Homo sapiens: one gene and its partners. The protein of the gene in region 1 purifies or fractionates together with the protein of each later gene. This does not show direct contact. Each region holds a gene or a part of one and is shown in the gene's direction. Other genes may lie near its edges.

The links.
Region 2: the proteins of LRRC32 (region 1) and ZDHHC6 purify together in Homo sapiens (co-immunoprecipitation; 3 studies listed by BioGRID and IntAct, with this or other methods). This does not show direct contact.
Region 3: the proteins of LRRC32 (region 1) and PPM1B purify together in Homo sapiens (co-immunoprecipitation; 2 studies listed by BioGRID and IntAct, with this or other methods). This does not show direct contact.
Region 4: the proteins of LRRC32 (region 1) and ORC4 purify together in Homo sapiens (co-immunoprecipitation; one large-scale study listed by IntAct). This does not show direct contact.
Region 5: the proteins of LRRC32 (region 1) and COL6A1 purify together in Homo sapiens (co-immunoprecipitation; one large-scale study listed by IntAct). This does not show direct contact.
Region 6: the proteins of LRRC32 (region 1) and SCN2B purify together in Homo sapiens (co-immunoprecipitation; one large-scale study listed by IntAct). This does not show direct contact.
Region 7: the proteins of LRRC32 (region 1) and NAGPA purify together in Homo sapiens (affinity purification with mass spectrometry; one large-scale study listed by BioGRID and IntAct). This does not show direct contact.

The regions. Positions count from the first base shown.
Region 1 is NC_000011.10:76,663,770-76,668,125, reverse strand, and holds part of LRRC32 (transforming growth factor beta activator LRRC32 isoform a precursor), read left to right. Parts: intron 1-2,167; 5' UTR 2,168-2,171; coding exon 2,172-2,255; exon of another isoform or gene 2,256-2,260; coding exon of another isoform or gene 2,261-2,278; intron 2,279-4,259; exon of another isoform or gene 4,260-4,356.
Region 2 is NC_000010.11:112,440,119-112,444,474, reverse strand, and holds part of ZDHHC6 (palmitoyltransferase ZDHHC6), read left to right. Parts: intron 1-868; coding exon 869-960; intron 961-2,123; coding exon 2,124-2,283; intron 2,284-3,779; coding exon 3,780-3,941; intron 3,942-4,356. UniProt on the Homo sapiens protein: Endoplasmic reticulum palmitoyl acyltransferase that mediates palmitoylation of proteins such as AMFR, CALX, ITPR1 and TFRC.
Region 3 is NC_000002.12:44,213,513-44,217,868, forward strand, and holds part of PPM1B (protein phosphatase 1B), read left to right. Parts: intron 1-183; coding exon of another isoform or gene 184-209; exon of another isoform or gene 210-245; intron 246-4,356.
Region 4 is NC_000002.12:148,013,927-148,018,282, reverse strand, and holds part of ORC4 (origin recognition complex subunit 4), read left to right. Parts: intron 1-4,356. UniProt on the Homo sapiens protein: Component of the origin recognition complex (ORC) that binds origins of replication. DNA-binding is ATP-dependent. The specific DNA sequences that define origins of replication have not been identified yet.
Region 5 is NC_000021.9:45,987,903-45,991,827, forward strand, and holds part of COL6A1 (collagen alpha-1(VI) chain precursor), read left to right. Parts: intron 1-1,181; coding exon 1,182-1,235; intron 1,236-1,705; coding exon 1,706-1,750; intron 1,751-1,849; coding exon 1,850-1,876; intron 1,877-2,355; coding exon 2,356-2,382; intron 2,383-2,475; coding exon 2,476-2,520; intron 2,521-2,870; coding exon 2,871-2,924; intron 2,925-3,076; coding exon 3,077-3,139; intron 3,140-3,925. UniProt on the Homo sapiens protein: Collagen VI acts as a cell-binding protein.
Region 6 is NC_000011.10:118,173,596-118,178,495, reverse strand, and holds the start of SCN2B (sodium channel regulatory subunit beta-2 precursor), read left to right. Parts: upstream 1-1,856; 5' UTR 1,857-2,064; coding exon 2,065-2,134; intron 2,135-4,900. UniProt on the Homo sapiens protein: Regulatory subunit of multiple voltage-gated sodium (Nav) channels directly mediating the depolarization of excitable membranes.
Region 7 is NC_000016.10:5,027,519-5,031,670, reverse strand, and holds part of NAGPA (N-acetylglucosamine-1-phosphodiester alpha-N-acetylglucosaminidase precursor), read left to right. Parts: intron 1-1,177; coding exon 1,178-1,286; intron 1,287-2,662; coding exon 2,663-2,791; intron 2,792-3,485; coding exon 3,486-3,691; intron 3,692-3,777; coding exon 3,778-3,825; intron 3,826-4,152. UniProt on the Homo sapiens protein: Catalyzes the second step in the formation of the mannose 6-phosphate targeting signal on lysosomal enzyme oligosaccharides by removing GlcNAc residues from GlcNAc-alpha-P-mannose moieties, which are formed in the first step.

The DNA.
Region 1 (4,356 bases):
CCGCTGCTGACCTGTTGTGTGCTGTGAGATGCATCTTAAAGGATGGTGAGCCCCTCTCTAGGGGCACTTCCCATGGGAGGGGGTGGGGCCCAGTAGCCACGGAGGGCTTGGTGCTGTGCTCACTGGAAGCTCAGGGGCTCTGGGAGGACTGGAGGACATAGTCCAGACTTGGGGAACCAAAGAAGGCCTCTTGGCCCATCTAAGCTGGGACCCCAAGGATGAGGAGGTCTTTAGCAGAAGAGGAGAGGGGAGAAAGTGAAGGTTTGGGGCAGTGAAAATCTGCTCAGGGAACTGAAGGAAATATGAGGTGTCCAGAACCCAGAATGTGAGAGGGGACACCGGGGAAGCAGGCTGGAGAGCAGAGCTGGCCAGGCAGGGCATGCTCCCCAGTGGCCTGGAAGGCCCTGCCGGAGGGGTTTTCACTCAGTTCTGAATATGCTAACTTTCTAACGGGCGGTGGCGTTCTGCTTTTTAAACAGCAGAACAAAGTTTCCTGTGAAAGCACAACCTGTAATGCAGGTGAGAGCAGAGCAGCTGCAGGGGCAGCGCCTGTGGCCCTGAGGGGAGCCAGGGAATAGGGTTTACCGGGTCCGGCTGTGGTCTGTGCGCCTTCAAGAGAGATGGGATTCAGAGCAGCCATCTTCGTCCATAGCTCATCACTAGCGGGTTCCAACAGTCAAAGACACTGCCCTCAAATGCCCTGTGAATGCCTTTTCTCCTGCAGCATCCTTCAGAATCGCGGTTCAGCACTCACTGAGGGAGCACCCACTGTGGGAGGCCTGGGAGTGTGGATTTGAAGGGCACAGACCCAGGAGCCAGACTCACCTGGGCCGGTGGCTTGTTCACCGTGTGACCTCGGGCATAGTACCTAAGCTCTCTGAGACTTCTTTTTCCCTTCTGTAAAATGATGATGGAACCAAGTCATTGAATTTTTGTGAGGATGGAATGAGTTCATGCCTAGAAAGTGCTGAGGAGAGGGCCTACTGCATAATGGAGGCTCTGTAGGTGGCATCTCGTTTGATTCTCAACAAAAACTTGGCATGGCTGCCATTAACCTCAAATGAGGAGACTGAGGCTCAGAGAGGTGAAGCGACTTGTAAGATCACACAGCAGAAAGGTAGAGGAGACAAGAGGGAGCAGTCAGATGTGGGTGACTGTGCGCCTGGTGCTCTTGGAAGGCTTTCTGTGTCCCTCTTTAAGACTCTCTGTCTGTATCACCGTCACTGTCACTTCTTTTTCGTGTTCATTTGTTTTTTGAGTTCCCAGTTCCCAGCACAGAGCCAGACATGAGGAGGTATTCAGTAAAGGTGTGAATGAATGAATGAAATTCATGGGTGGATTTGTACATCCCTAGCACTTGGCTGATGTCCTTAGTGAGGGAGTGAGTGAGCCTCCAGCAGCACTGGGATTTAACCCTGCTAAGGGCCTGTGCGGTCCCCTTAGCCCCACCCCTGGCTGCTCTTAGAGGGAAGGGCTGGCCCAGGAGGCCGGAGTGTGGCTTCAGTGAAAGTACAGGGCCTGCCAGGCTGCTCCTGGGGAAGTCCGCAGAGCAGTGCCGGGGCAGCCAGGCCTCCTGTGGGACTTCCTGCCAAGGCCCGGGCCCAGCCCTTGAACAATGGCAAGGGCTCGAGAATCAGAGAATCAAAAGGAAAAGGGCAAAATAAAGGTGGGGGAGTGGGCAGAAAACGAGGAATTGCATGTGGGGACTGAAGAGCTGGTACGGAGGACTTGTGTGGCCTGGGTGGAAATGTAGTCAGAGGCCCACCCTCCAAACCCCCTCTACATCTCCATGCCCCCAGTCCCTGGCCCTGAGCATGGCCTAGGGTAACCCTTAGGGTCTGTCAGCCTTCTGTGCATCCCCTCCAGGCTGTCTTCCGCCAGGTGGGGTCTCTTGAAAACCCCCGTCTGACCAAGTCACCTGCCGCTTAAAACTCTTGCTTCCCCTGGGTAATGGGCGGCTCCTTGGCCTGGGTGAGAGGCCTACTATGATGGGCTGCAGGCCCATTTCCCACCTGGCTCTCTGCCCTGCTCAAAGCATCTTTATTCCAGCTCCAGCCGTGCTCTGGGGTTCCCTGAGGGCAGGCACAGAATGGGTGGGAGTGGGGGCTGGCAGTGGGAAGGAGCCAGTGGGCTTACAGTGTTCCCCTTTCCTCTCCGCCTTACACAGAGCCATGAGACCCCAGATCCTGCTGCTCCTGGCCCTGCTGACCCTAGGCCTGGCTGCACAACACCAAGACAAAGTGCCCTGTAAGATGGTAAGATGCTCTGCCCAGACAGGGTGAGGACCACCCCCACCTCCCTGCCCTAGGGTGTGCTAGTGCCCCAGCCCCAGAAGCCAGAAGTTAGAAGAGTCAGGAGAGGAAAGGGAATGTACCTTGCATTTAATGAGCACCTACTAGAATGTTTAAACACCTTATTTACCCACAGTCCTGCCAGGTAAGCACCATTATTCTCATTTTGCAAAGGAGGAGACTGAGGCTTGGAGAGATTGGGCCTTGTCCAAGGTCATTCAGCTGGGAACAGTGAGGCTGATATTACACTGTATTCCCCCAAGCTGTCCCCACAGAGCAGTAGGCCCAGCTAGGGGATCTAGAATATATATATATGTGTGGGGAATTTGGGGTAGGCCAGCTGGGAGGGGCTCCTCTGTGCTCATCCCTCTTGGAGACAAATCCCCTTCCAAGCTGGGCTCCTTGACTTGGGACTGCCCGCTGGAGTGCCTCTCACTTCTTAGTGCCCAGATCAAATGCTGCCATCTCCAGGAAGCCTCCCCAGCCCCTCCCAGGCTGGCCTAGTCTGATCACACCTTCCTCTGGGTTCCTGCGGTCCCCAGGCTTCCCCCTATCTCAATACTGAGAAGACTGAACATGTGGGGTGGTTGGTGAAAGGGTCCAAGCCTGTCTCACCTGCCAGACCATGAACTTCCCTAGGGCAAGGACCAAGTTTGATTTGCTTCTATTCCTTTTTCCTGTCCCAAGCCAGGGAAACTAGCCCTAAAGTTCTTGTGACTCTATGAGATACAGGGCAAAGAGAACACCTAGATCCACTTGTAAGGCCGGGCAGTCACTGAGGCCAGAGCCTGGCTGGGGAAAGGGCAGGGCCTCCGGAAGCCCCTCTTGGACCTGAGACTCGAAGAAGCTTATGACACAGAACCGGCAGCTGCTTCAGGAGGCAGGAAGTGCAGGCAGCTGCCTGCCCGCAGCCCTTCCCTGGGGGTGCAATGTCTCCTGTTGCCACCACCTTTCTTGCTCTTCAGAGCCCTTCTAAGATTCCCGGAGCCCAGAATTGCGGGCAGAGAAGGCCTCAGATGTCACCAAATACAAACGCACATTCTACCTCAGGGAGACGAGGCTCAGAGGGGAAAGTCCTTGACTACCCAACAGGCAGAGGGGAAGCGGGTGAATTTTGGAGTCTGGGGAAATGAGATAAGAGATAGGAAAGCACTTTCTGAACCAGCATGGGAATAATACACACGGGAAGTAAGGAGAAGATGTGTGACCCACCAGGGACCTACAGGATTCGAACCCAGCTGCCTTTGCCACTGTTCACTGCCTGGTGCCTCTCCCTACTCTGCTTTCCTCCCATGATCAGGTGGTGAAATGGAGTTGGATGGCAAGTCTTTGCTTCTGAAAAGGAAGCTGGGCAGTGGGTGTCCTGATAGCCCAGGACAGTGGGTGGGAGCTCTAAACTCTGGTCAAGGGCCAATTCCTCCAATTCCCTCCGACGGTAAGTCAGGCAATGCTGGGAGCTCAGAGCTGAAGGAGGCATGAAGACCCTGGAAGTGGAGCTCTGAGCACCGCCCTGGACTTCAAGCTTCTTCCTGGACTGGACTGGAGATCTGGGCATCCCAGTGCAGCCCTGCCCACCATCAGGCCCCCAGGCTTCTAGAGCAGGGGTCTTGGGCCCCTGAATGGAAAGCCAGTCTTGGGCTGTGGGCTTGGCAAACTTTGTGTCCTGGATCAAGTCTCAGGGGCTGGTGCCCCAGGGAGCCTTTGCCTATCCAGAGGCAGTATGCCTCTGCACTTGCCCGGGGGTAACACGCGGGGCACAGCACGGTGCCCCCCACACTGTAACAGTCAGTAAGTGGGTCCATGATGCTCTTTGCTGTGCTGACCAGCTGAGGGCCCAGTGGTCAGAACTTGGCTGGCACCAATAGGAAAAGGAATTTGCAAATGGGAGTTTTGAGCCCCTGACTGTCTGATCTTGGGCAGCCCACTCCCCTTAGCCTCAGTTTCGTTAGGGGTACAATAGGAACAGGGTGAACAATGCCTGGGAAGATTTAATGGGGTAGGGGGTCTCTGCACTCAGCACGCAGCCTGACACAGCTGGGGCTCCATCACAGGTCATTTTGTTGTT
Region 2 (4,356 bases), on another chromosome or scaffold:
TAAGATGTAATTTGAACTCTGAAAGAGCTTATAACCTAAGCAAGAAACAAACGCACTTGTGCAAATCACTAAACTATAAAGTAGAACGTGATGGGTGCTGTTAAAGTTAGAAGAATTGAGCATTGTTAGTTGGGGACCTGAGGGAGGAGTGGGAATTTCCAAAGGAGATGGGGAAGAGGGCATTTCAGGTTGAAAGAATGGTGGGACCACGTATTCAGAAACAGTAGACAGCCCTGTGTGACTGGGGAAAAGATCATGTAGGGCAGAGACAGCTGAAACAAAGGCAGATTGTGACAGTCTTAAATACATGAGAAATTGTAGACCATAGAAAGTTGTAGGGGTTTTCAGGCAGAGTCTGACACAGTCAGAGGTGTATTATAGGAATATTATTTTGACAATACACGGTTTGTGCTGAAGAAAAACTACAGTAAAGGAAACTAGTTAGGAAGTGATTAAAATGGCCCAAGAAAGGGGTGGTGACGGGTAATGTCAAGGAGGGAGCAGATTTCAGTAGGACTATCAACTCACGATTAACTCCTCACTCTAAAATACCTGCTAAGTTGTCAGCTACCTTTTTCTGAACTCCTGAATCCACTAAGATTTGGGGTAAGTAGAACCAACTAGTGACACTGAATTTAGGTGGAGCACAAGGAAGAAAAATTTAAAAGGACTTCTGGGTAATTGGGAAAGTGATGCTGCTCTTACCAGAAAACTTATTTAAAAATATTTTAGCTCAAATAAGAGGACTGGAAATGCAAGTTAAGATTCTCTCCTTCCCCTATCGCCCATAAAAGAAAATCATACCGTAGGAATCATACTTATATTCAAGTATCCGATGATGCATTTTTGTTTCTGTTTTGCTGCCAAGGAAATTTCTCAGGATACCATGTATCTCCAGTATTGTAAAGTCTGCCAAGCATACAAGGCACCACGTTCACATCACTGCAGAAAGTGTAACAGGTACCTGTCTTTCTTGCTGTTCAGCGAGGACTGATCAACTAATTACTGATGTTTTCATTGTTGCTTATACTACATTAGTGCTACTTCTATTCACTGCAAGGTTACCATATTATAAACAATATTGTCAGAATACTTGTGTCCATAATCGCCATTTTATACTTAAATTATCTAGATAATAAATAGATTTAATTCTTCCTTGTTACAAGTGAAAAGATTTTCCAGAAAAATACAGATTTACTTTGCCTCTTGTCCTACAAGAACAAGGGAAAAAGGTATAAACCTTAAGTTTGTTTCCATATATCAAGATTAATTGTGTTAGTCAGCTGCCATCTGGACTAACTTTAGAATTGTTCTGAGTCTAAATTATAAGGGAGATCTGCTTTTCCCATTACTTATTGACAAACATTTACACTTTATACACATCTAATAATCCAGGTGCCTATTATCACAAATGTTTTAATATCAAAAACTTAGAAGAAAACTGACTATTAAAAATATGAAATAACCTGTGACCTTTTTTAATGAACAGCTATAATCACTGATTAGTAAGAAATTTAGAGAACCGTTGAAAGCAAATAAAGTTTTGTTTCAGGCCAAAACATTGTCTTCTATCAACAGTACACGGCAAGACTTTGTTTATTATACCATATCTTATATTCTGGAGTTAGCTTGCTTAGCTCAGAGATCCATTAACTAAAGGATACTATGAGAACAGGAAGGAAGTTACATGTGTCTATTTGAGCCCATTAACCCCACTGGAGGTCTATAAGGGATTTGTTGAGTCTCTATTGTAGGTCACTTGGGTCACTGCACTTACAAACTAGAAGAAAACCAGGAACCATGCTCATTTCTTTATAATGAGCATTATAAAGAGACCCTCTTTCAGTGGGTCTCCTGACTTCTTTAAACAAATACTTGTAGCTGACATCTTTTCCTCAGAAGCTGTTAGAAAGCCTGCCCTTTCCTGTGCTGTTTAGAATTTAAAAGGAGTCACTTAATTGTTTAAAAGCTCATAAAGATTTTTCTTTCTGTTCCATGAAGTATAATTCTCTCGTAGCTCATGGACATGCTGGATTCCTATTTGCTTGATCTTTTGAAGACCAAAGTTATTTAAAGTAGACAGGATTTTCTGCCTCATGTTTTATGTAAATTTTTCTTGTTAGATGTGTGATGAAGATGGACCATCACTGTCCTTGGATCAACAACTGTTGTGGTTACCAAAATCATGCTTCGTTCACACTGTTTCTCCTTTTAGCACCACTGGGTTGTATCCATGCTGCTTTCATTTTTGTGATGACTATGTACACACAGCTTTATCATCGGGTAAGTGAAAATGAAAATGTTTTGTTATAAAATCATCCATGCAAGATTAAATGGTAGTTATCAACATTTAAGAGGTTCCTTTTGGAAATATGCTTTCTGTGATTTAGTTGGGGAAATAGAACTTTGTTTTACTGGTATATGGGTTCCTTTTTAGAAAGCATTAAAACTTAAATTTTAAGATGAGGAAAGAGTATTTGTTCTGAAAACTTACATGCTGTAGTTGAAGGTGATAAATATTTTAGTACTGTATATGTAATTTGTTAGACTTCAAACTTAATAGTTATGGAAAGAATAGAAGAAAAAAAGACAACACTAGTGCTTCCTACTTTCATCCCATTCATGTGGCAAGTTGTAGTTCTTTGTTCATTTCTGATTCTAGTGCCCTGGAAGGTGGCTCATGGAGCAGATGCATACCATAAAATATAAACAGATTAAACCAGCAAGAGATCAAGTTGATTTATGGGCAAGTAGTCATGAGATAAAGTTCAAGGGACACAAACCTCCCTAAACAGGCCTTGAAAGTAAACGAGAGACACACCTGATGGGACTGCCAAACTGGAGAGTCTGTCCTTTGGGGAGGGGACAGCCCATATTTGATCTGCTAGCTTGTGGTGTTTGGAAATTCTAGCCCAGAAAAATCTGAAAATCTGGATTTTTATGTGAAATCTCTTGATTTTTAAATGTTGGCACCTAATTCTGAATGTTGAAACATTATGCAGGCCAGGCAGCACACATCTGTGGCCATATTTGGCCTGCATTTTATCAGTTCTTCATCACCATTTGTAAAACATGAGGGAAGAAACAACTGAATCCTAGGCAGCACTTGTCACTGTGGAAGAATACTGCGATGTAGAATAGCAAGAGAAGAGAAAAGACATAGTTCTGGTTTAGATTAGTGTCTAGTGTTGTTTATGTATGTTAATGTTGGTAAGGTCTCCTTGACACTTTCTGAGGAAACAACAACAACAAAAAGTAACATTTGAGAAAACTAAGAATGATATCCTGCACATCGGTCCGAGCTCATTACTATATTAATTAAAAATAGCTGGCCCAGCTCAGTGGCTCACGCCTGTAATCCTAGCACTTTGGGAGGCTGAGGCGGTGTGGGTCACAAGGTCAGGAGTTCAAGACCAGCCTGGCCAATCTGGTGACACCTGTCTCTACTAAAAATATAAAAAATAAGCCGGGTGTGATGGCACATGCCTGTAGTCCCAGCTACTCGGGAGGCTGAGGCAGGAGAATTGCTTGAACCTGGGAGGTGGAGGTTGCAGTGAGTCGAGATCGTGCCACTGCACTCCAGCCTGGGCGACAGAGTGAGACTCCGTCTCAAATAAATAAATAATAAATAAATAAAATAAAATAAAAATAGCTGTGTTTGCGTTGGCCACAGGGCCACGTTGTTATCTCTTTGATCAAGTTGTTTTACGTGTCACAGTAGAGTCTGACCAGTTACCATAACCAAACATTTTGTGCGTGTGCTATTGTTGCTGCGATAGCTCTCCTTTGGGTGGAACACAGTGAAGATCGACATGAGTGCAGCCCGGAGAGATCCTCTTCCAATTGTTCCATTTGGATTAGCTGCATTTGCTACCACCTTGTTTGCCTTGGGATTAGCTTTAGGAACAACCATAGCTGTTGGGATGTTGTTTTTTATCCAGGTAAGCATCTCAATTACCTCAAGTCAAAAGTGTCAAGTTGTTGGGACTGATTGCACAAGAAAGAGACAAAGCCTGTATTTAAGTGTCCAGTATGAAATGGAAATTATTTTTGCTTATTTCATTTAGGTAACTAATCTCCTTTGTATTCGTCAGATAATTTTGATTTAATTTTGCCAGAATTTCTAGGTATTGATTTAGTTTTTAAAATGCTAACTTCAAGTTAGGTAAGTTCTGGAGCACTTCAGAATTGAGAGAGCTCTTCTCACCTGTACAGTCTCTCTTGCTCTTCACATCCACCCCAATAGAGGAGTCTTACTGTTTTCCCTTCCCAACACGTGATTAATTCATTGATTCTCAAAAAGGTTAAGTGACTTACCCAATGTCACCCATTCATGTACTTGGTAAACATTTTCCC
Region 3 (4,356 bases), on another chromosome or scaffold:
TGATTTCTAATATGTAATTACAATTAAAAGTATAAAACCAAGAAGAGAGTCTTTTGCAAATTTGGAGAATGGGGATTTATCTTTTCTGTCTCTACAACTATCTAGCTATGCACCCTAAACAATGTGCTTAAAGTTTTTTTTGCACCTACAATTTCCTCAGCCCTAAATTAATCTTGTTTTTAGGTCTCAATGCTTTTGAGTTTCAATGAGTCCTGCTTTGAGGGTGATGAAAACGTGAGAAACATGTAAGAACACATTGAAGATTATGTCAGATGCGGTCATATTCCTATTGATAATATCATTAAGAGGAGCTGTTTTTATAGGAGTTAATATTTAATGATAAATTGTAGTATATTGGGGTTGCAGATTGCTGACTATAGTTTATCAGAAGGTGGGAGGAATTCTCTTAGTTTCCTTCTTCCTCATTCATAAAGAAACTGGGTAGTTTTTATTTTAGGAAGAGCTCTCTAGTTTGGTCAGCTGGCTGTTATGTGAACTTATCCAACTTGCTTAACCCCTCAAGGCACCAGTTTCTTTATTGGAAACTAAAGATAAAAACACCAACCATAGAGTTTTTTGTTTTTTGAGACAGAGTCTCGCACTGTCACCCAGGCTGGAATGCAGTGGCGCGATCTCGGCTCACTGCAAGCTTAGCTGCCCGGGTTCACACCATTCTTCTGCCTCAGCCTCCGAAGTAGCTGGGACTACAGATGCCCGCCACCATGCCTGGCTAATTTTTTGTATTTTTAGTAGAGATGGGGTTTCACTGTATTAGCTCAATCTCGTGACCTCGTGATCTGCCCGCCTCGGCCTCCCAAAGTGCTGGGATTACAGGCGTGAGCCACTGCGCCCGACCCCATAGAGTTTTTTTTTTTCTTAAATAAATTGTTACAAAAAAAGCTTATTGATGACACTTGTTAAAGATGGTAAGGCAGATATTTTTTCGGGGGTGGGGGGGGCATGGCAGTAGATATAGGGACCACTATGATAGAATCTTGCAGTGGCAGAAAGAAATTAAACTCAACTTGGGGTCCCATAAAGATAAGTGGAATTTATAACTAAGGAGCTGAGTGCTTGAAGGGAGTGTCAGTGGATGGAAAATTATTACTAAGAGGAAGCATCAACATAAGGGGTTTCTGGCTAAACTGACTTGATAGCATGGCAGGCCAGGCTAAAATATCCAGAGTGGTCCTATATCAAGTGTGTGGGGGTTTTCAGTAAACTGACTGAGCAGGATTCTCATTCAGCCTGGTTTCTACAAGGACAGAGAGGGAGCCTAAAGTTCTCCTAGTCAGAAAGAACTCAAGAGTCTTGCTGAAGGTTTGGTCCAAGCAAAGAGTTTTTGTCAAAATAAATGAGAATTATGTTTGTTAAGCACCTATTATGGTGCCTAGCACGTAAGTCCTCAGCAAACTGTAACTTTATATGAACTCTTAACTTCTGTAATAGCCACATTTTAATTTCTTAAAGGTGTGGTCAATTCAGTTTAACATGAGTTAATAATTTAATATTAATTTTCTTCTGCATAGTTAGTAACTTTCTAAAGTATATATTATATAGGAGAGATAACAAATATGTAATATGATCTCTAGGGCCTGTAGCAAATAGTTATTATTAATCAGGAGACAAAATTGTTAGCTAGGCAGCCACTACAAATCAATTTAAGTTGGTACTTAAAATGTAACTTCACAGTAGCTTACACCTATAATTCTTGGGATGCCGAGGCAGAAGGATTGCTTGAGACTAGGAGTTCAAGACCAGCCTCGGCATCATAGAGCTACAAAAAAGTTTTAAAGATTAGCTGAGCATGGTGGTGCACACCTGTAGTTCCAGCTACTTGAAGACTGAAGCAGGAGGATCACTTGAGTCCAGGAGTTTGGTGTTACAGTGAGCTATGATGGCACCACTGCACTCCAGCCTGGGCCACAGAGTAAGAACATGTCTTTAAGAAAAAAAAAAAAGTAACTTTTTATTTGTAAAGCAGTGTTCTTCAGGAGCATTATGTTTCTTCTGGGGTTTTAAATCATGTAATATGACATTAAATTTTGTGGTAAATACATTCTGGTGTACTTGGTAAATCTGTGTGTATGCTTTTAATGATGACTGGTCAGGTGGGAAAGGAATAATATTAAAATAAACAGGGAATAGTAGTTCACCTGAATTGATGAATTATATATTTAATGATTGCTTTCTACATACAGGTTTACTCAGTGTTTATTGAACATGTGTCACTGAGGATATAGCAGAAAAAGAAATCTCATAGAATTTGTATTCTAGTAAAAACCTATTTTTTTTTAATAGAGAAATAAAATAGAGTAAGTAGAGAGCAACAAGGAATATTGGTTAGAAATGTCTCTGTGAGGAAGGATGTTTGAGCAGCCGTGCTTGGAGAGAGAATATCTGAGGGAAGAACATTCCAGGCAATGACAACAGCAAAGACTAGGAGGGAATGTTCTTAGTGAGTGCAGCTGGGTTAGAATAAGCCAGTAGAAAACTAGAGGAAAATTAAGAGGTTTGTAGGAGGCATATCATGTGAGGACTTTGGACTTTGACTTGTGGGAATTCATTGGAAGATTTTGAGTACAAGAGTGATTTGTTCTTTTTTCCAAAGGATCTCTCTTAGTTGCTGTATGGAGAAGAGATTGTATAAAAGGGACAAGAGAAGCCAAAATACCGATTAGAAATTATGCATTAATGCATGGTAGTGGTAAATTGGACTAGAGTAGAGGGGTGTAAAAATGTCTGGTGACATTTTTGGTGTCATAGCTGAGGGGGTGCCACTGGCATCTAGTGAATGGAGGCCAGGGATGCTGCTTAATATTCCACAGCACACAGGACAGCCCCCACAACAAAAAAATTGTCTGGTGTAAAATGTCGGTGTTGTTGATGTTGAGAAGCCTTATACTATAAGACACAGATTTAAGGTAGAAAACTTACAGTCCTGCTTTCATGAAGCTTGCAGTCTATGACCCAATAAACATCGTGTATGTGGGAGTATATAGCATTATGGTATACAGTACATGTCATGCATATGGGAGTGTATTGCAGTGTACCTACTCAGACTTAGGTCAGAGAAGGATTTGAGAATGTGACATATAAAATTGAAACCTCAAGGATGAAAATAGGCATTCATAGCTGGGCGTGGTGGCTCAGGCCTCTAATCCCAGCATTTTGAGAGGCTGAGGTGGGTGGATCACGAGGTCAGGAATTCAAGACCAGCCTGGCCAACATGGTGAAACCCCATCTCTACTAAAATACAAAAATTAGCTGGGTGTGGTGGCACATGCCTGTAATCCCAGCTACTTGGGAGGCTGAGGCAGGAGAATCGCTTGAACCAGGGAGTCAGAGGTTGCAGTGAGCTGAGATAGTGCCACTGCACTCCAGTGTCTCAAAAAAAAAAAAAGGGACATTCACCATACAGAGGGGTTGGATTAGAGTGAAAAGTGTTCCCAAACCAACGAAAAGAGTATGTGAAGATCTAGAAGTAGAAGTCTTTGAATGGATCCTTTGGAGATGAGGGAGGCGGGCAGAGTTGAAAGAGTAGTGGAAGTCAACGTAAGGGTCTTGTGAGGCATGGTAAACAGTTGTTTTGAAAGTAAGGCCTGGGCTGGGTGTGGTGGCTCATGCCTGTAATCCCAGCACTTTGGGAGGCCGAGGTGGGTGGATCACCTGAGGTTGGGAGTTTGAGATCAGCCTGACCAACATGGAGAAACCCCATCTCTACTAAAAATACAAAATTAGCCAGGCATGGTAGCACATGCCTGTAATCCCAGCTACTCGGGAGGCTGAGGCAGGAGAATTGCTTGAACCCAGGAGGCAGAGGTTGCAGTGAGCCAAGATCACGCCATTGCACTCCAGCCTGGGCAACAAGAGTGAAACTCCGTCTCAAAAAAAAAAAAAAAGCTGTAGAATGTAACTATTTCAGGTAAGTATCAACTTGTAAAAATGATTTTTAATTTCTCCCCTTTTTCTTATAATTCTTATCTAGCTAAACTTTTATTATCCTTTAGTAATGGCATTCATAACTTTTATATTGTTTTTACTTAATATTAGATCAGAAGTATTTTTCCATATAGCTGTTACTGTATTCATCAAGACACCTATTTCGTAATTTTTAGTGATTATAAACCATTTCACTCAATGGCTACACCAAAGTTTTTAACTGTCCTCTTGTTGGTGAACATTTAGTTTGTTCCAGTTTTTGCTTTTTATGAATAATGCTGGAATGAACATACATATGCAAATAACTGTTTTTTCTTTTTTCCCCCTGCATAGCAATGTTTCAGTCAATAAGTAGCTTTTTGTATTACTTCTTAAAAATTTTTTGTGTGTTGATGGTAATTTTTTTTAATATAT
Region 4 (4,356 bases), on another chromosome or scaffold:
ATGAATGTGGCTTTATCTTATTGTTGTTTTAATTTATTCTGCCCAGGACACTAAAGAGTTTGAGCACTTTTTCAAAAACTTACCGGCTATTTGAATTTCCTCTTTCTAGAATTGTCTTTTTAATTCTTAAATCTTTTGTGCATTGTCTTTTTAAATCTTTTTGGGAGGTTTTTTTGTTTGTTTGTTTTTTGTTTTAATTGGGTTGTCTGTTTTACTCAGGGATTTCTAGCAGTATGGCCAATATCTTCTCTGTGCTTGGAGCATTACTCTCTTCTGGGATGGCAACTTTTATCTTCATGTAGGTCTTATAGGCTGTCATTGTTCTTTGAATTGTATACGTAGTTTAAACTCCAGATAACAAGTTCTATGCTTGTGCTATTCATTGCAGTAGCTACTAGCTGCGTGTGGCTTTTGAGCACTTGAAATGTGGCTAGTATGACTGAGGAACTGAATTTTTAGTTTTATTTAGTGTTCAATTAAGTTTAAAAACTGACACTTGATTCAGTTACTGTAAAACCTGTATGTTTGGAACAACTCGGATACATAAACCTTTCTTAACCGCAAATTATTAAATTATTATTTTTTAATTTTTGGAGATTTTTTCCCCCCTGGAGATGGAGTCTCGCTCTGTTGCCCAGGCTGGAGTCCAGTGGCATGATCTTGGCTCACTGCAACCTCCGCCTCCCAAGTTCAAGTGATTCTCCTGCCTCAGCCTCCCTAGTAGCTGGGATTACAAGCATGTGCCACCACACCTGGCTAATGTTTTTATTTCTAGTAGAGGCAAAGTTTCACCATTTTGGCTAGGCTGGTCTCAAACTCCTGACCTCAAGTGATCCACCCACCTTGGGCTTCCAAAGTGATGGGATCACAGACGTGAGCCACTGCACCCGGCATTAGCTGCAAATTATATAAAAATATAGATCAAGTATTTTATATGGCAGTTTTAATTTAGCATCTGCATTGTAATGTTGTATAAACACCATATTTCAAAGACAGTATGAAAACAATGTAAAATACCTCAGCTTTTCATTATGATTACATGTTGAAATTATAATTGATTTCACCTTGTTTTCTTTTAGTGTGAACAATAGAAAATTTTAAATTACTTATGTCACTTTTACTGTATTGCTGCTGGACAGTACTTTGAGCTAGATGTTCCTATGTGTTTACCATGTCTTAATTTCTTCCTGCGTCTCTGACTTTTCTTTTGGAATCTTTTAACTTTTACTTTAGCACACTCAGTAGAAGTTTCATAATGCAGACATTCTGATGGTCAGTTCTCTTAATTTTTTTGCTTTGTCTTAATTTTTTGTTTTGCCTTCAATCTTGAAGAATGTTTTGGGGGATATTACAGATTTGTGGTTGTTTTACTTGTACCTTGAAGATAACATTTCACTGTTTTTGGTTTTCATTATTGATTTTGAGAAATCAGCTGTCAATGCATTAGGTTGGTACAAAAGAAATTGTGGTTTGGGACAGCGAATTTTAAATCATTATAACGAGGCTCTAACATATCTTTATTAATTAAAATAGGTCATTACAATCAACACATTTTTGCCGACAAGAAATAAGTTTGTTTTTTCCTGTAATGTAAAAATCCATGCTTCAGGATTCCACAAACTCTTGGAAAGCTTTTTCCTGCATCCTGCTGGTTGTGGAAGCATTTTCCCTGAAAAAAGTTGTAGAGATGCTTGAAGGAGTGGTAGTCAGTTGAGAGGTCAGGTGAATATGGCAGATGAGGCAAAACTTTGTAGCCCAGTTCGTTCAACTTTTGAAGTGTTGGTTGTGCAGTGTGCGGTTGGGTGTTACTGTGGAGAATTGGGCCCTTTCTGTTGACCCATGCTGGCTGCAGGCATCACAGTTTTAAGTGCATCTCATTGATTTGCTGAGCATACTTCTCAGATGTAATGGTTTCTCCAGGATTCAGAAAGCTGTAGTGGATCAGACCGGCAGCAGACCAGCAAACAGTTACCATGGCCTTTTTTGGTGCAAGTTTGGCTTTGGGAAGTGCTTTGGAGCTTCTTCGCGGTCCAGCCACTGAGCTGGTCATTGCTTGTCATATAAAATCTAGTTTTTGTTGCACCTCACAGTCCGATTGAGAAATGGTTCGTTGTTGTGGAGAATAAGAGAAGACAACACTTCAAAACGGTGTTTTTTTAAATTTTTGCTCAGCTGGTGAGGCACCCACTTATCGAGCTTTTTCACCTTTTCAATTTGCTTCAAATACTGAACAACTGTGGAATGGTTGACGTTGAGTTCTTACGTTGAGTTCTTCAGCAACTTCTCATGTAATTGTAAGAGGATCAATCTGCTTCAATGATTGCTCTCAATTGGTTGTTGTCAACTTCCAGTGGCCTGCCACTACACTCCTCATCCTCAAGGCTCTGGTATCTTTTGCAAAACTTCTTGAACCACCACTGCACTGTACGTTCATTAGCAGTTCCTGGGCCAAATGCATTGTTGATATTGCAAGTTGTCTCTGCTGTTTTACGACCCACTTTGAACTTAAATAAGAAAATCACTCAACTTTGCTTTTTGTCTAGCATCATTTCCATAGTCCAAAATAAATATAAACAGCAAGTAATAAGTCATTAGCCAAAAAAAAAAAGCAAGAAATGCCCATTAAAATGACATATAACATAACCACATTTATTTAAGAATGTATTCCAGGCCGGGTGTGGTGGCTCACACCTGTAATCCCAGCACTTTGGGAGGCTGAGGTGGGCGGATCACGAGGTCAGGAGATCGATACCATCCTGGCTAACATGGTGAGACCCTGTCTCTACTAAAAATACAAAAAATTAGCCAGGCGTGGTGGCGGGTGCCTGTAGTCCCAGCTACTCAGAAGGCTGAGGCAGGAGAATGGTGTGAACCCTGGAGGCAGAGCTTGCAGTGAGCCGAGATCGCGCCACTGCAGCCCAGCCTGGGCAACAGAGAGAGACTCCATCTCAAAAAAAAAAAAAAAAAAAAAAAAATTCCAATATCAAATGGCAAATTCCAACAATGCAAAAACCACAATTAATTTTGTACCAACCTAATAATTCATGCTGCTTTGAAGGAAATCTCTCTTTTAGAATTTTTTTTTGTTTGTTTCTTTTTTTGGTTGTAATTTTTCTGCTGTTTCACTCTAATCTTTTTGTGTGGAATTCTTTTCTTCTTTTTTTTTTTTCTCCTAGTCAAGTGTGGTTGTGGGGGTAGAGGAAATGTTCAATCATCGTGTGGCATTCTTTATCTTGCCCTGTATTCATCGAGATTATTAGATCAATGCATCAGTATCTTTTTAAAGATATTGGTGATATTCTTACTGTTTCTGGTTACCTGCTGAAAATTACAATCTTGCTTTTATTGGCCTAGTATAGTTGCTCCTTAGTATCTGCTGGAAATTGGTTTCAGAACCCCGTGCAGATACCACAATCCACAGGCAGCTCAAATTCCTTATATAACATGCCATCATGTTTGCATACGGCCTACACACATCCTCCCACGTATTTTAAATAATCTCTAGATTGCTTATGGTACCTAATACAATGTAGATGCTATGTAAATATTGTTATACTGTCATGGCTTTTTAAAAATTTCTATTATTTTTTATAGTCGTGTTTTTAAAAATATACATGTATTTTTAATCCTTGGTTGAGTGAATCTGTGGCTATGAAGGGCCGACTATATTCATAGTTCATTTGTTGTTTGTTGAAGATAATTCCAGTTTCTAAATTTTCTAAGTCTGTGTCTGCTAGCTTATGATATTTTTTTCTTGTGTGCCTTGAGTACCAGTTGTATTTAAAAAATTATAGGAATATATGAGTCCTAGAATAATAGTATCTTTTTTAAGAAGGTACATTTTTCTAGGAAAGGTCTCTAGGAGTGCTTTCAGTCCCAAGTCACTATTCATGTTCAAGAGTTGGGATTCCTTCTGTTATACACATGACATTAAGGAAGACTTTAAGATCATGAATTCTATTTTCCTTCAATTTCCTCTTATCCTAATGATGTTGTCCTTAAACTCTGAACATAAATTGGGTAGTTTATCTGAGTCCCCAGCTTTGTTAGGCAATGTGCTTTTATTTTTATTTTTGATTTTGATTTTTTGTGTTTATTTTTATTTTAAATGAGGTCTCGCTGTATTGCACACAATCATCCTGAATTCCTGGGCTCAAGCTATCCTCCTGCCTTGGCCTGTCAAAGGATAGGATTACAGGCATGAGCCACCACACCTGGCCTTGTGCTTTGATTTTTTTACCATAGACCGGCACATCTTCCATTAGCTCAGCCTTTTTTCTCAGCCTTTTCTTCTAGACAGGAAAATGTCCTCAGAACAAAAGTTACTTGGTGTATGGTTTGTTTCTGGTTTACCTT
Region 5 (3,925 bases), on another chromosome or scaffold:
TGGCGGGGTCCAGATGGAGGGGACGGCGGGGTCCAGATGGAGGGGACGGCGGGGTCCAGATGGAGGGGACGTCGGGGCTCCAGATGGAGGGGACGGCGGGAGTCCAGATGGAGGGGACGGCGGGGTCCAGATGGAGGGGACGGCGGGGTCCAGATGGAGGGGACGGCGGGGTCCAGATGGAGGGGACGTCGGGGCTCCAGATGGAGGGGACGGCGGGAGTCCAGATGGAGGGGACGGCGTGGTCCAGATGGAGGGGACGGCGGGGTCCAGATGGAGGGGACGTCGGGGCTCCAGATGGAGGGGACGGCGGGGGTCCAGATGGAGGGGACGGCGGGGTCCAGATGGAGGGGACGGCGGGGTCCAGATGGAGGGGACGGCGGGGTCCAGATGGAGGGGACGGCGGGGTCCAGATGGAGGGGACGGCGGGGTCCAGATGGAGGGGACGGCGGGAGTCCAGATGGAGGGGACGGCGTGGTCCAGATGGAGGGGACGGCGGGGTCCAGATGGAGGGGACGTCGGGGCTCCAGATGGAGGGGACGGCGGGGTCCAGATGGAGGGGATGTCGGGGTCCAGATGGAAGGGACGGCGGGGTCCAGCAGGCAGGCTCCGGCCGTGCAGGGTGTGGACTGTCCCGGGGGCGCTGGGGGCTTCTGAGGGTGTCTCTGTCCGCCCTGCCCTCAGCCGCACTCTGTTCAGAAGGACCTTTCTGGAGGTAGGAGGGTGAGAATGTGGGTCCCCTGCTTCTGTGTGGCTCACATAGGATGACCTTAAACGTTAGAATTAGCTGCTGATAATTAAAACTTGCCATGAGGCTGCTCATGGACCTCAGATTTCTGGCTTCTCCTAAAAACCATCAAACCCAGCAGCTGTGGGCCCGAGTCCCATGGCCATTTCCTGGGGGTCGAGCTGTGACCCTGGGGGGCTTCTGTGCTGCACGTCCCTCCCACCTGTGCCTGGGGGTCAGCAAAGCCGAGCAGACAGGAACGAAGGCAGGGAGTGGGGGGAGCTGGCGTGCGGGTTGGAGCTCCCAGACCCAGGCTGACCAGATGTGATGGGGAAGGTGCTTTAAAGCCCTTGATCCCTGAAGGCTGGATGAAGCGTCTTTTTAAAAACCTGTTTCGTGAGCCAGCTTTTTAGAAAGAAACGGGGCTGCCCCAACCTTGACCTGTTTTGTGTTCCAGGGAGAACGAGGCAAGCCGGGGCTCCCAGGAGAGAAGGGAGAAGCCGGAGATCCTGTGAGTGCCTGACTGTGGGGTGGGGGCCCTAAGAAGCTGGAGGCGGGGAACGACTAGGCCTCGGAAACTTCCGGAAGAGTGGCTGGGTTCTGAGTGCCAAAGTCACACTGCCTGTTCCTTGTGGGTGGGAGCAGACCTGGAGGGGCCACAGCCCAGCCATCCTTCCACACAGCCCCCCAGGCAGCCCGTAAGCCCCCCTGCCAGGGAGGGGCTGGGTGGGGAGGTGGCCCAGGGTGCTCAGGCCGGCACCGTCCGGGGCCCCTGCCGTGGCTCCTTGGCCCAAATCCTATCCATAGACTTCCCTCCCCCAGCTCCACCTTGGAGGGCCTCGGCACCATGGGCCCCGTGCAGCAGGGCCCCTCTCTCGGCCTGACCAGGCCTGGGCTGGAGGGAGGGGTGTGGGGCTGGGTGGGACTGGCCCCTGCCCCTGCTCCTCCGGGGGTGTCTCACCATCTCCTCCTGTGTTCCAGGGAAGACCCGGGGACCTCGGACCTGTTGGGTACCAGGGAATGAAGGTACGTGCCCCCCCTTTCCTGGCCCGAGCCCGGTGGTGCCCTCAGCCTTGCACAGCACTAACAAGCCTTCCTCTTCCTCTTCTTCCGCTGGGTGTGTAGGGAGAAAAAGGGAGCCGTGGGGAGAAGGTGAGTGAGGCTCGACCTCGGAGCTGGTCTCTCCAGGCGCAGATGTGCCATCCTGGACGAGGGTGTCCCCGGGGATGAGGACAGTGTCCCTGACAGGAGACCACGTGTCCTGCAGACCCGCTCCACCGCCCCTCGCCGTCCCCTCCATCTGGAAGGACAAGGACAGCCACCCAGGCACCCAGCAAAGGCGCCTGTGTCACTTTCACCCCACCCCAGAGCAGGGGTCCCCCGGGCGGTTACCCTCTGCGGAGCCGGGGGTCCCCCGGGCGGTTACCCTCTGCGGAGCCGGGGGTCCCCCGGGCGGTTACCCTCTGCAGAGCGGCCCCTCCCCATCACTGTCAGTCCCCATGATTCTCAGCAGTGATGTTGTCCCCTCGGGTTGGGGGCACCCAAGCCCCTGCCTCGCGTGGGCCTAAGCCAGGCTTGCCCTGCCCTCCCCACCCCAAATACCCCCTCACACCCGCTTCCTGTCTCCGCAGGGCTCCAGGGGACCCAAGGGCTACAAGGTGAGCGTGGGCTGCTGGGAGGGGGGAGTTCTGCCCCCACGGCAGCATGTCTGACCTGCATCTGACTCCTGCCTTCGTTTTCCCGCCTCACAGGGAGAGAAGGGCAAGCGTGGCATCGACGGGGTGGACGGCGTGAAGGTGACTGGGGGGAGATAGGATGGACGGGGAGGGACGAGGAGGAATGGGGCGAGATGGGGAGGGACGGAGTGGACGGCGTGAAGGTGACCCGGGGAGGGATGGGGTGGACAGTGTGAAGGTGACCAGGGGAAGGACGGGGAGGGACGGGGAGGGATGGGGTGAGGTGATCCCGGCAGGAGGGACAGGGAGGAGTGGGGTGGACGGTGTGAAGGTGACCCCAGGGGGGTGTCTGCTAGGCAGGGCTTTCCAGGGAGGGTGTGGAGGGCATGGAGGGCACCAAGTCTGACAGTTGATTGGCCTCAGTTTACCCACTTGGCCGTCAGATTTTCTAGTTTTCTTCCTCTTTCCAGGGGGAGATGGGGTACCCAGGCCTGCCAGGCTGCAAGGGCTCGCCCGGGTTTGACGTAAGTCACTTCCTCTCACTGATACTTTAAAACTAGCGCTGTCAGCAGCACCTCGTGTGGACCGTTTTGACTTCTGTCTGGGCGGTCTGGGGCTGCTGCCAGAGGCCGCGGTGGCCTCTGCCGGTGGTGTCATGCTGCCCTCTTTTCTCCAGGGCATTCAAGGACCCCCTGGCCCCAAGGGAGACCCCGGTGCCTTTGGACTGAAAGGAGAAAAGGTGAGTGACTTGCGGCCCCTGGAGGACCAGGGCCTTCACGGTTGGCCAAGCGCTGAATTGGAAACCTCTCCTGGAAGCAAGTCCTGGTCCGAGCATGTCGGCCACCCGTGCGGCCTCAGAGGGGAGGAGCTGGTGGAGGCTGGAGGCAGGCAGAGGAGCAGCGGGGACAGTGCCCACCGTGGGGACAGTGGCCGTGGCGCTCCCGCCCAGAGCCTTCCCTGCAGCCCGAGGGCCTTCAGGCCTCCGCCATTCTGTCCCCCGCACCTGCCGCTCGCTCGGCACAGATGGGACCCCACCGCGTCACTCCTAGCCTGCGAGCCGCAGCCCAGAATGGCTCTCAGAACTGAGAATGGGCTGGGTGGCACTGAGGGTGGCGAGTGGGCGGGAGGGTGGTGAGCGGGGGCGGGAGGAGGGTGGTGAGCGGGTGGGAGGGCGAGTGGGCAGCGGGAGGGCGGGAGCACGAGGCGGGAGAAGGAGCTTTTTCGTCTGACAGCTGAGTCTGCCGTTGCTGGTGTTTTCTCTGGAGTTTCTTTGTTGAAGCTGAAGTGTTGGGGAAGACAAAGGCGAATGCTGACCCCACCCCAAACATTCCCAGACGAGCTCCTAGAACCCAGCAGACGGTTTCCAAATCTCATCTTCAAGTTCCCAGATTACCCTCCAGGCCCTAGATTTGAGTTTGCCAATTTGCCAGCCTGGCAAAGCTGTGCCTTCTCTAATGGGAACCAAATCCTGCCCCTTAGACAAGATGGCCCTTGGCTGGGCCTCACAGGGAACAAGGTTGGAGCA
Region 6 (4,900 bases), about 42 Mb from region 1:
AGATACCACAGGCTGAGCATGGTGGCTCACGCTTGTACTCCCAGCACTTTGGGAGGCTGATGCAGGTGGAACACTTGAGGTCAGGAGTTCGAGACCAGCCTGGCCAACATGGTGAAACCCTGCCTCTACTAAAAATACAAAAAAATTAGCTGGGGGTGGTGGCACGTGCATGTAGTTCCAGCTACTCTTGAGGCTGAGACACAGGAATTGCTTGAACCCAGAAGGCAGAGATTGCAGTGAGCTGAGATTGCACCACTGCACTGCAGCCTGGGTGACAGAGCGAGACCCTGTCTAAAAAAAAATAATAAAATAAAAAAATAAAAAATTGAGATATCACATGTAAAGTGCTTGGCACAGAGTTTATGCTCAAAAATATTAGTTGCTCCCTGTTTGGTACACAAAGGGCCCATCACAAATGCAGGTGACTGCTGCATGCGAATCTCTGCCCTACTTAACCATCTCCCCAGGAGTATGGGGGTCACCTCTGCTTAGGACCACCTTGGACTCCACCCACCAAGTTCTCCTACTTATGACGTTAGCTTATTTTTTCTTCCTTCTTCAAAAGAAAAGTTTTAAACATACACAAAAGAAGAGAGAACTATATGACAAACCCTTTACACCCATCACCAGCTAGTTTCAATTATCAAGCAAAACAACTAGTCTCGTGTCACCTATTCTCCCATCTCTTTTTTTCGTTGAATATATATATATGTATTTTTGAGATGGAGTCTCACTCTGTGGCCCAGGCTGGGATGTAGCGGAGTGATCTCGACTCACTGCAACCTCCGCCTCCCAGGTTCAAGCAATTCTCCTGCCTCAGTCCCCCCAAGTAGCTGGGATTACAGGCACACGCCACCACACCCGGCTAACTTTTGTATTTTTAGTAGAGACAGGGTTTCACCATGTTAGGGAGGCTGGTCTCGAACTCCTGACCTCAGGTGATCTGCCTGCCTCGGCCTCCCAAAGTGCTGGGATTACAGGTGTGAGCCACCCCGCCCGGCCACCCATGTGTGTCTTTAACAGATAGAGATGTTAAAGGACAAAACCACATTTTATCAGACCCAACAAAATTAAGAATGATTCATTAATACAATCTACTATGTAGTTCATATTTAACTTTTCCCAATTGTCTCAAAAACTTTTCTTTCCTGTTGATTTGTTTGAATCAGGTTTATCCAAAGGCCTGTGTTACATTCAATTGTAAGATCTCTTGGGTATTTTTCTATCAGCCTGCTTCAACATGTTCTGTTTTCAGAGGAAACGCTAGAATGAGGAAAGCATTACCCCTTGAAAGTCTCTCCAACTCACTTTCCTGAACCCTTTTCAATAACACAAAAACAAGCATCTCCTTTTTTTTTTTAGGTTTTTTTTTTTTTTTTCCCTCTGGAGGCAGGGCCCAGGCTGGAGTGCGGTGCAGTAGCTGGGACAAGAGGCATGCGACATTATGCCTGGCTAAATTTTGTATTTTTAGTAGAGATGGGTTTTGCCATGTTGCCCAGGCTGGTCTTGAACTCCTGGACTCAAGCAATCCATCCGGCCTCCCAAAGTGCTGGAATTACAGGTGTGAGCCACTGCGTCAGCCTGGGGGTGTTTTTAAATGATAAAAGGTGTTTCCCTTTCCAGAATCTTTAAAATAAATGGATTCCTCTAATAGCTTTCAAAATCCAACAATCATCCCAGTGAAGTCAAAAAGCAGGGTTTGTATTATTTCTTGTTTTAGAGGGTAAAAATTTCTGGGATTTTGTTCTTTTCAAAATGACTTTTTTATGCCCTCCCACCTGCTTTTTGAAATCCACCAACCACAATATTTACCCCATCCCCCTTTTCTCTCCCCCCCATCTCTCTCTCTCTCCTTTACACACTCCCTCTCTCTCTCTTTTTAGCAGCAACATACAAGCCGGCCATATTAGAGAGATGGAAATAAAGCTTCCTTAATGTTGTATATGTCTTTGAAGTACATCCGTGCATTTTTTTTTAGCATCCAACCATTCCTCCCTTGTAGTTCTCGCCCCCTCAAATCACCCTCTCCCGTAGCCCACCCGACTAACATCTCAGTCTCTGAAAATGCACAGAGATGCCTGGCTACCTCGCCCTGCCTTCAGCCTCACGGGGCTCAGTCTCTTTTTCTCTTTGGGTAAGTTAGACACATCTGCATGCTCCCGAGGGTTCAGAAGTGTAGCCGCAATGTGAAGAGGATGGGGGCAGGGGATAGGAAAGAAGACATTGCTAGCGCTTTCCCTCTGTGTCCTTGGGAGGGGAGGTGCTGGGGACTGGAAGGGACGTTGCTGGGGAGTGCAGAACCCTGGGACTACTTAGTCACAGAAATGTTGGGTCAGGGGATCTGAGTGTTGCTGGGGGCTGACAATTGTCAAGGGAGGTGAATCTTCTCTGGATTTCCCCTAAGTGGACCTACGTGGCGGTGGGGCAGAGAGTGGATTGACCTGCAGTCTCTTCAGGGATTATTTTTTGGAGTTGCTGCAAATGCGGGGTCCTGGGACTTAATGCTCCCTTAAGGGGCTTCTTTTCAGAAGCTTGATCCTGGTGGATTTAGGGTATTAGGAGAGTGTGCAGGGGAGCTGGTGGCAGAAAGTTGAGTCTGGGTCTGGCTTCTTGGCACTCGGTCTCACTGATCTGTTGGAACGTGTGTGGGAGTAGGTGGGAAGCGGGCTTGGGGAATGATGTCTGGGTTGGGAGGAGACCTGCTGAGGCACGCACTGATGGAGAAGGCACCTTTGGCTTGGGCCGGATGGAATGGAGGAAGGGCCAGGTGTAGAGATTCAGGAAAAAAATGGAACCCACAGGCTGAGCGAGGTTGCAGCCCTTTAAATCCAGCCTCAGAACTGCCCAGCCCAGTCTTGCAGACTGTCCTGTCAAGTGTTTGTATTTGACCACTCAGAGACTTCCTGGTGGGGAAGTGGGCTAGAAAGTTATTTGCAAGCCTGCTTTGTAGAGTTTCATTCTTGCTCCTAAACTTACTTATTGCTGGAGCAGCAACTGAGAGTCAAGTCCAAGGACTGTTGATGGAACTATTCCCCACCACAAAGGCTCTCTCTCTTTCTGTGGTGTGATGTGCTGGGTTTGGAGTAGGAGTGCTAAACACAGACAGTGCAGAGGCCCTGCCAGCCTGCTTTGCTGAGTTACTTGGCATATTAACATCAGAGCAGGAATGCTATGGAATCTCTGGCAGGACCTGGGTTTCAAGCCACCTTTGTCATTTACGTAATGATCACAGGCAAGTTACTCAACCCCTCTGAGCTTCAGTTCCCTCCCGGGTAAACTAAAGAATGCCTACTGCCTGACGTGTTTGTGATTTGGTGCATGGCAGGAACTCAACGATGGCTAACATAAGAATGCTTTTCGTGAGCCCAGGCACTGTGTATCTTGTTTAGCCCTCACAGCAATCGGAGGTAGATTCTATTATACTCAGGTTACAGGGAGGAAACAGATGACTATGGTAACGGGAGCTGAAATTTGAACTCCCTGTGTCTGACTTCAGCACATTCTCTTAAACGTTGGATTCCACTCCCCAATGTTCAAGAAATGGCACTGCTATATTAACAGTACCTAATTGATCAGAGTCTCAGGACAGGCTGAAAGAAGGGGAGTTGGGTGAGTGGCCTGTTGTAAGGAGGCCCAGCTGGAGGACAGGACCCTTTCCTCAGGAGTTAGGAAGCACTTCGTGCAGGAGAGAAGCCGCCTGGTGAGAGCCATGGCTAAGTAAAGATAGAAAGGGGGCTCAGTGACCAGGACCCAGAGCTCTGGGCTAGGGTGAGGAAGAGGGAGTCTGCGATGAAGAGGTCTGAGTGTTTGGGGTGGGGAGATGGTAGTGGGAGGAAGCTAAAGCTTCTGCAAAGCTGAGTGGGAGAGGATGCAGGAATGGGGACCTTGAACTTGAACTTGATTGGTGCTGTAATGAGGCATGTCCCTGGCACTCCAATGCTGAGGGCCGAGTTGACAGTGGAACTTTGGTGGTGTTGCAGTAGCATCGATCCCCAGGATGGAGGATGCCACAAGTGACGAGGGAGGGGACTCTGTCGGGGCTGGGCTTGTGGGGATGACTATGGAGGTGGCAAAGAGAAAGGGCAGGTGGGCAACCAGCTCTACCCACGGCAGAAGCATATGAGGCTAGTTTTAGCCAGAAACAATTCAAATGACTGGGCTTCCCTCAAGTTTTTCTTGAGACCGTTGACTCCACAGTCACTGGCCTGCTTACCAATGTATGGATTATGTTAGTGGAGGCATAGAAAGTGGAGTCTGGGCTGAGCATGGTGGCTCACGCCTGTATCCCAGTGCTTTGGGAGGCCGAGGTGGGAGGATCGCTTGAGGCCAGGAATTGGAGACCAGCCTGGACAACATAGCAAGACCCTGTCTCTACAAAAAAAAAAAAAAAAAAAAAAAAAAAAAGAAAAGAAAAATAAGCCAGGCATGGTGGCATGTACCTGTAGTCCTAACTGTTCCAGGAGGCTGAAGAAGGAGTATCAAGAGTTCCAGGCTGCAGTGAGCCGTGATCATGCCTCTGCACTCCAGCGTGGGCAGCAGAACCAAACCCTGTCTCTTAAAAAAAGAAAGAAAGAAAGAAAGAAAGAAAGTGAAGTCTAGTCCTCACTCTAGCCCACTGCACATATCTGCTGCTTGTGGTGGTGGGGACCCAGACATGGAGAGAAAGCTGTCTCTTCTTCCTTTAGTAGACTTTATTGAGTCCCCACTCTGCCACACACTGTCCTGGGTGCCAGGGATACCAAGATGAATAGGAGTCAGTTCCCCGGAGCCTCTAGAGGGAAACAGGCCCATGAACAAATAATAACAAGACAACATTGTATGTATGGCAACAATAATAGCAATAATGCTCATCATAGTCGCAGCTGACTTTTGTCCAGGCCATGTGCTAGGCACTGTGCTG
Region 7 (4,152 bases), on another chromosome or scaffold:
TCTTTCAACAAGTATTGAGCAGCTACTTTGTGCCCAGCACTATTCTGGGTACTGGGGATTCATGGGGAGGAAGATAGGCTTATATTGAATATATAGGACAAAAAATAGTTATAGAATATGCTGAAAAGAATTGATAAGTGCTCAGAAACAAAAATAAAGTTAGGGGAAAGGGGAGAGATGGGGACCGGAGCTGTGGGTACAGGAAGAGAAAAGTGAAGAGAAAAAAATCTTCATGGACCTGCAACATCGGCGTGGCCCAGGAGCTTGTTTCAAAGCCCCACACCCTCAGACCTGCAGAATCAGAGGCAAGGCCCAAGAGTCTATGTTTTAACGGGCCTCCATGGTGACTCTGACCGACACTCAAGGTTGAGAACCACTGGGATGCAGAATACTGGGATGGGGACAGGATACCATGACCATTTTAGAGTGGGCAGTAAGCTAGGTGTGGTGGCTAACACCTATAATCCCAGCACTTTGGGAGGCCGAGGCGGGAGGATCGGTTGAGCCCAGGAGTTCAAGACCTGCCTGGGCAACATAGTGAGACCTATCTCTACAAAAAAAAAAAATACAAAAATTAGCCAGGCATGGTGGTGTGTGCCTGTAGTCCCAGCTACTTGGGAGGCTGAAGCATGAGAATTGCTTGAACCTGGGAGGTGGAGGTTGCAGTGAGCTGAGATCATGCCACTGCACTCCAGCCCGGGCAACACAGCGAGACTCTTTGTCTCAAAAAAAAAAAAAGAGTGGGCGGTCAAGGAAGGCCTCACTAAGGAGGTGATCTGACAAAGGAGCAAGCTAGAGAAAAGCACAGTTCCCAGCCAGAGGGAACAGGAAGTGCAAAGTGGCTGCAGGGTGGTGAGGGGACACCCAGGAGCTGAGGCAGGAGGAGGAAGAGGCTGGGGAGGGCATGCTGGCTCTTTGGATTTTGTTCTAAGAACAGGGGAAACCATTAGAGGGTCTTCACCTGGAGGCTGGCATAGCTTGGTTTACCTGTAAGAAGAGACCCCCCGGCTGCCCTGGGGAGACTGGGATGTGCAGAGGGGAGGCAGGGAGACGAGCAAGGAGGCTGCTGTGCTTCCCAGGGAGGTACCAGGTAGCTCAGACCAGTGGGAAGTGGAGTTAGGCAAGAAGCAGGAGGCCTCCCAAGGGGCGGTGATCAGCCAGGCTGCTTTTCCTTCAGGTTCCTTTAGCAAATTTGTGAATGTGATATCAGCCAGGACGGCCATTGGCCACGACCGGAAAGGGCAGCTGGTGCTCTTTCATGCAGACGGCCAAACGGAGCAGCGTGGGTGAGTCCTGGGAGCTGAGGCCCCCCGGCCGGGGCTCAGTCCTGCTAGGAGGAACGTTGACCCAATGACAGCCACCCTCTGACTCTACCTGCTTTCTGGGATGTTGACACCTATCTGTCCCCCCTCCCAGGGCCCCCTCACCTTCCCACAGGATGAGGGTTCTGAGATCTTTGCCGATTCCAAGAACTCATCATCTTCAGCTTTAGGCCTCACCTTTCCTGAACCCTAGATAGGATACAAGGAAATGGTCACAAAGTGAGCAGGGAGAAGATCTTGGTTCCAATCCCAGCTTAGCCATCGATGACTTGTCTACCCACCTATGCCGTAGACAAGTCCCTCGGCCTCCCTGAGCCTCATTTCTAGCCCCTGTAAAGAGAGTGTTTTGGTTTGCTCTGGTTGCATAACCAGCACAAATTTAGCAACACTCAGCAGGGAATGTTCTTTTGTTTGTTTGTTTCTTTGAGACAGGGTCTTACTCCGTCGCCCAGGCCAGAGTGCAGTGGTGCAATCTCAGCTCACTGCAACCTCTACCTCTCAGGTTCAGGTGATCCTCCCACCTTAGCCTCCCAGGTAACTGGGATTACGGGCACCCGCCACCACACCCAGCTAATTTTTGTATTTTTAGTAGAGATGGGGTTTCATCATGTTGGCCAGGCTGGTCTCGAACTCCTGACCTCAGGTGATCCATCTACCTCGGCCTTCCAAAGTGCTGGAATTAACAGGCGTGAGTCACCGCACCTGGCTAATTTTTGTATTTTTAGTAGACACAGGGTTTCATCATGTTGGCCAGGCTGGTCAACTTGGAATGTTCTATGTTCAGGGTGTCCCATGGACAAAACCAAGATGCTGGTTAGGCAGGGCTCTTCTCTTATCTGGAAAGAATCCTCTTGTTTAGGTTGTTGGAAGAATCCCCGTCGCCTCCTCAGTTGTGACTGAGGTCTTGGTTTCCCTGCTGGCCGCCATCTGGGGCCTCAGCTCCTTCAAGCTGCCCAGGTTCCTTCCCATGTGTGTCCTCTCCCCCAGTTGTCCGGCCACCCTCTCATCCCCCTCGTATTTCAAATCTCACTTCCTATTCTGTCACCAGCCAGAGAAGGCTCTCTGTGTTGAACACTCCTGTGATTCCAGTGGCTGCACCCAGATCCTCCGGGCCGTTTCCCCTCCCTTAAGGATTCCTATGCCATGTAACAGCACAGGCATGGGTGTGATCTCACGTGTTCACAGCTTCCGGGGGCTAGGATGAGACATGCTTGGGGGCGGGGGCCACTTAGAAATGTGCCTGCACTGTGGGCGTGATGCTCTGCACTGTGGAAGGAAAAGGAGTTAAATGAGAAATGATGGTGGGCGCTGAGCCTGAGCAGCGCCGCTTTGTGCCGCAGCATCAACCTGTGGGAAATGGCGGAGTTCCTGCTGAAACAGGACGTGGTCAACGCCATCAACCTGGATGGGGGTGGCTCTGCCACCTTTGTGCTCAACGGGACCTTGGCCAGTTACCCGTCAGATCACTGGTAAGCACGTGAGAGCCGCCTTCGTGAGGGCTGAAGTCCAGGTCTGCCCCAGCCTGTCTCATTCAGCCAATATTGAGTGCCTGCTATGTGCCAGGCCCCGGGGGTTCAAGAGAGCAGAAATTGCTGCAGTCCCTCCCCCAGGATGCCAGTACTACCCAGGCCTAGGAGCAGGGTCAGTTGGTCAGCAAAGACCTCCCTGAGGATGACAGAATAAGAACTGAGATCTGAAGGAGGTGGTAGCTGGGTGGGGGTGGGAGAGCCTTCCGGGCAGAGGGCACCACATGTGAAAGGCCCAGGGCTGGGAGGGATTGTAGGGAGCGGAGGAACCTATAAAAGACTGGAGAGGGCTGGGCACAGGGGCTCACGCCTGGAATCCCAGTGCTTTGGGAGGCCGAGGTGGGAGGTTCGCTTGGGCCCAGGAGTTTAAGACCAGTGTGGGCAACATAGACCCTGTCTTTATGAAAAAATAAAAAAAAATTAGGCAGGCGTGATGGTGCACACCTTACGGTTACAGCTGCTCAGGAGGCTCGGGTGGAAGGATCGCAATACCTCATCTCAAAAATAGATAGACGCCATCTTGTAGGTAGGTAGGTAGACAGGTGAGAATGGAGAGAGGGGTGGTTGGGGGCAGCCTGGAGGGAGTTGAGGGGCCGTCTGGGGGTGTCCTCTCCTCACACATCACATCCCTCTACAGCCAGGACAACATGTGGCGCTGTCCCCGCCAAGTGTCCACCGTGGTGTGTGTGCACGAACCCCGCTGCCAGCCGCCTGACTGCCACGGCCACGGGACCTGCGTGGACGGGCACTGCCAATGCACCGGGCACTTCTGGCGGGGTCCCGGCTGTGATGAGCTGGACTGTGGCCCCTCTAACTGCAGCCAGCACGGACTGTGCACGGAGAGTGAGTGGGGGTTCTGGGGAGGGGGCTCTGCCCAGCCCTGCCTTGCCCTAGGCCCTCACCTGGCCTCCCCGGTCTTGTCTCGGCAGCCGGCTGCCGCTGTGATGCCGGATGGACCGGGTCCAACTGCAGTGAAGGTAGGAGCTGCCACGCCACTAGCGGATGGGGAGACGGTGGCCCCCGGCAGCCCCCACTGCTCCTCTGCTGCTTCTGTCTCCACCTTCTGGTCTGGGAAATGCTTGCCTCTTGTCTTCTGCCCCGGCCTCACCTGCACATCACTGTGTGACTCCCCTGTGGCTGCTGCGGCCCGTTCCACAAAGGGCTCGGCTAAAACAAGGGTCCCCGGGCTCTGGCTCCAGGGCCCACCTCAAATCCAGCACGGTCTTATCTTGAGATCCTAACTGCAGTGCCTCTGTAGAGATTCTGCTTCCAAATAAGGTCACGTTCAGGGGCTAGTCCAGGGA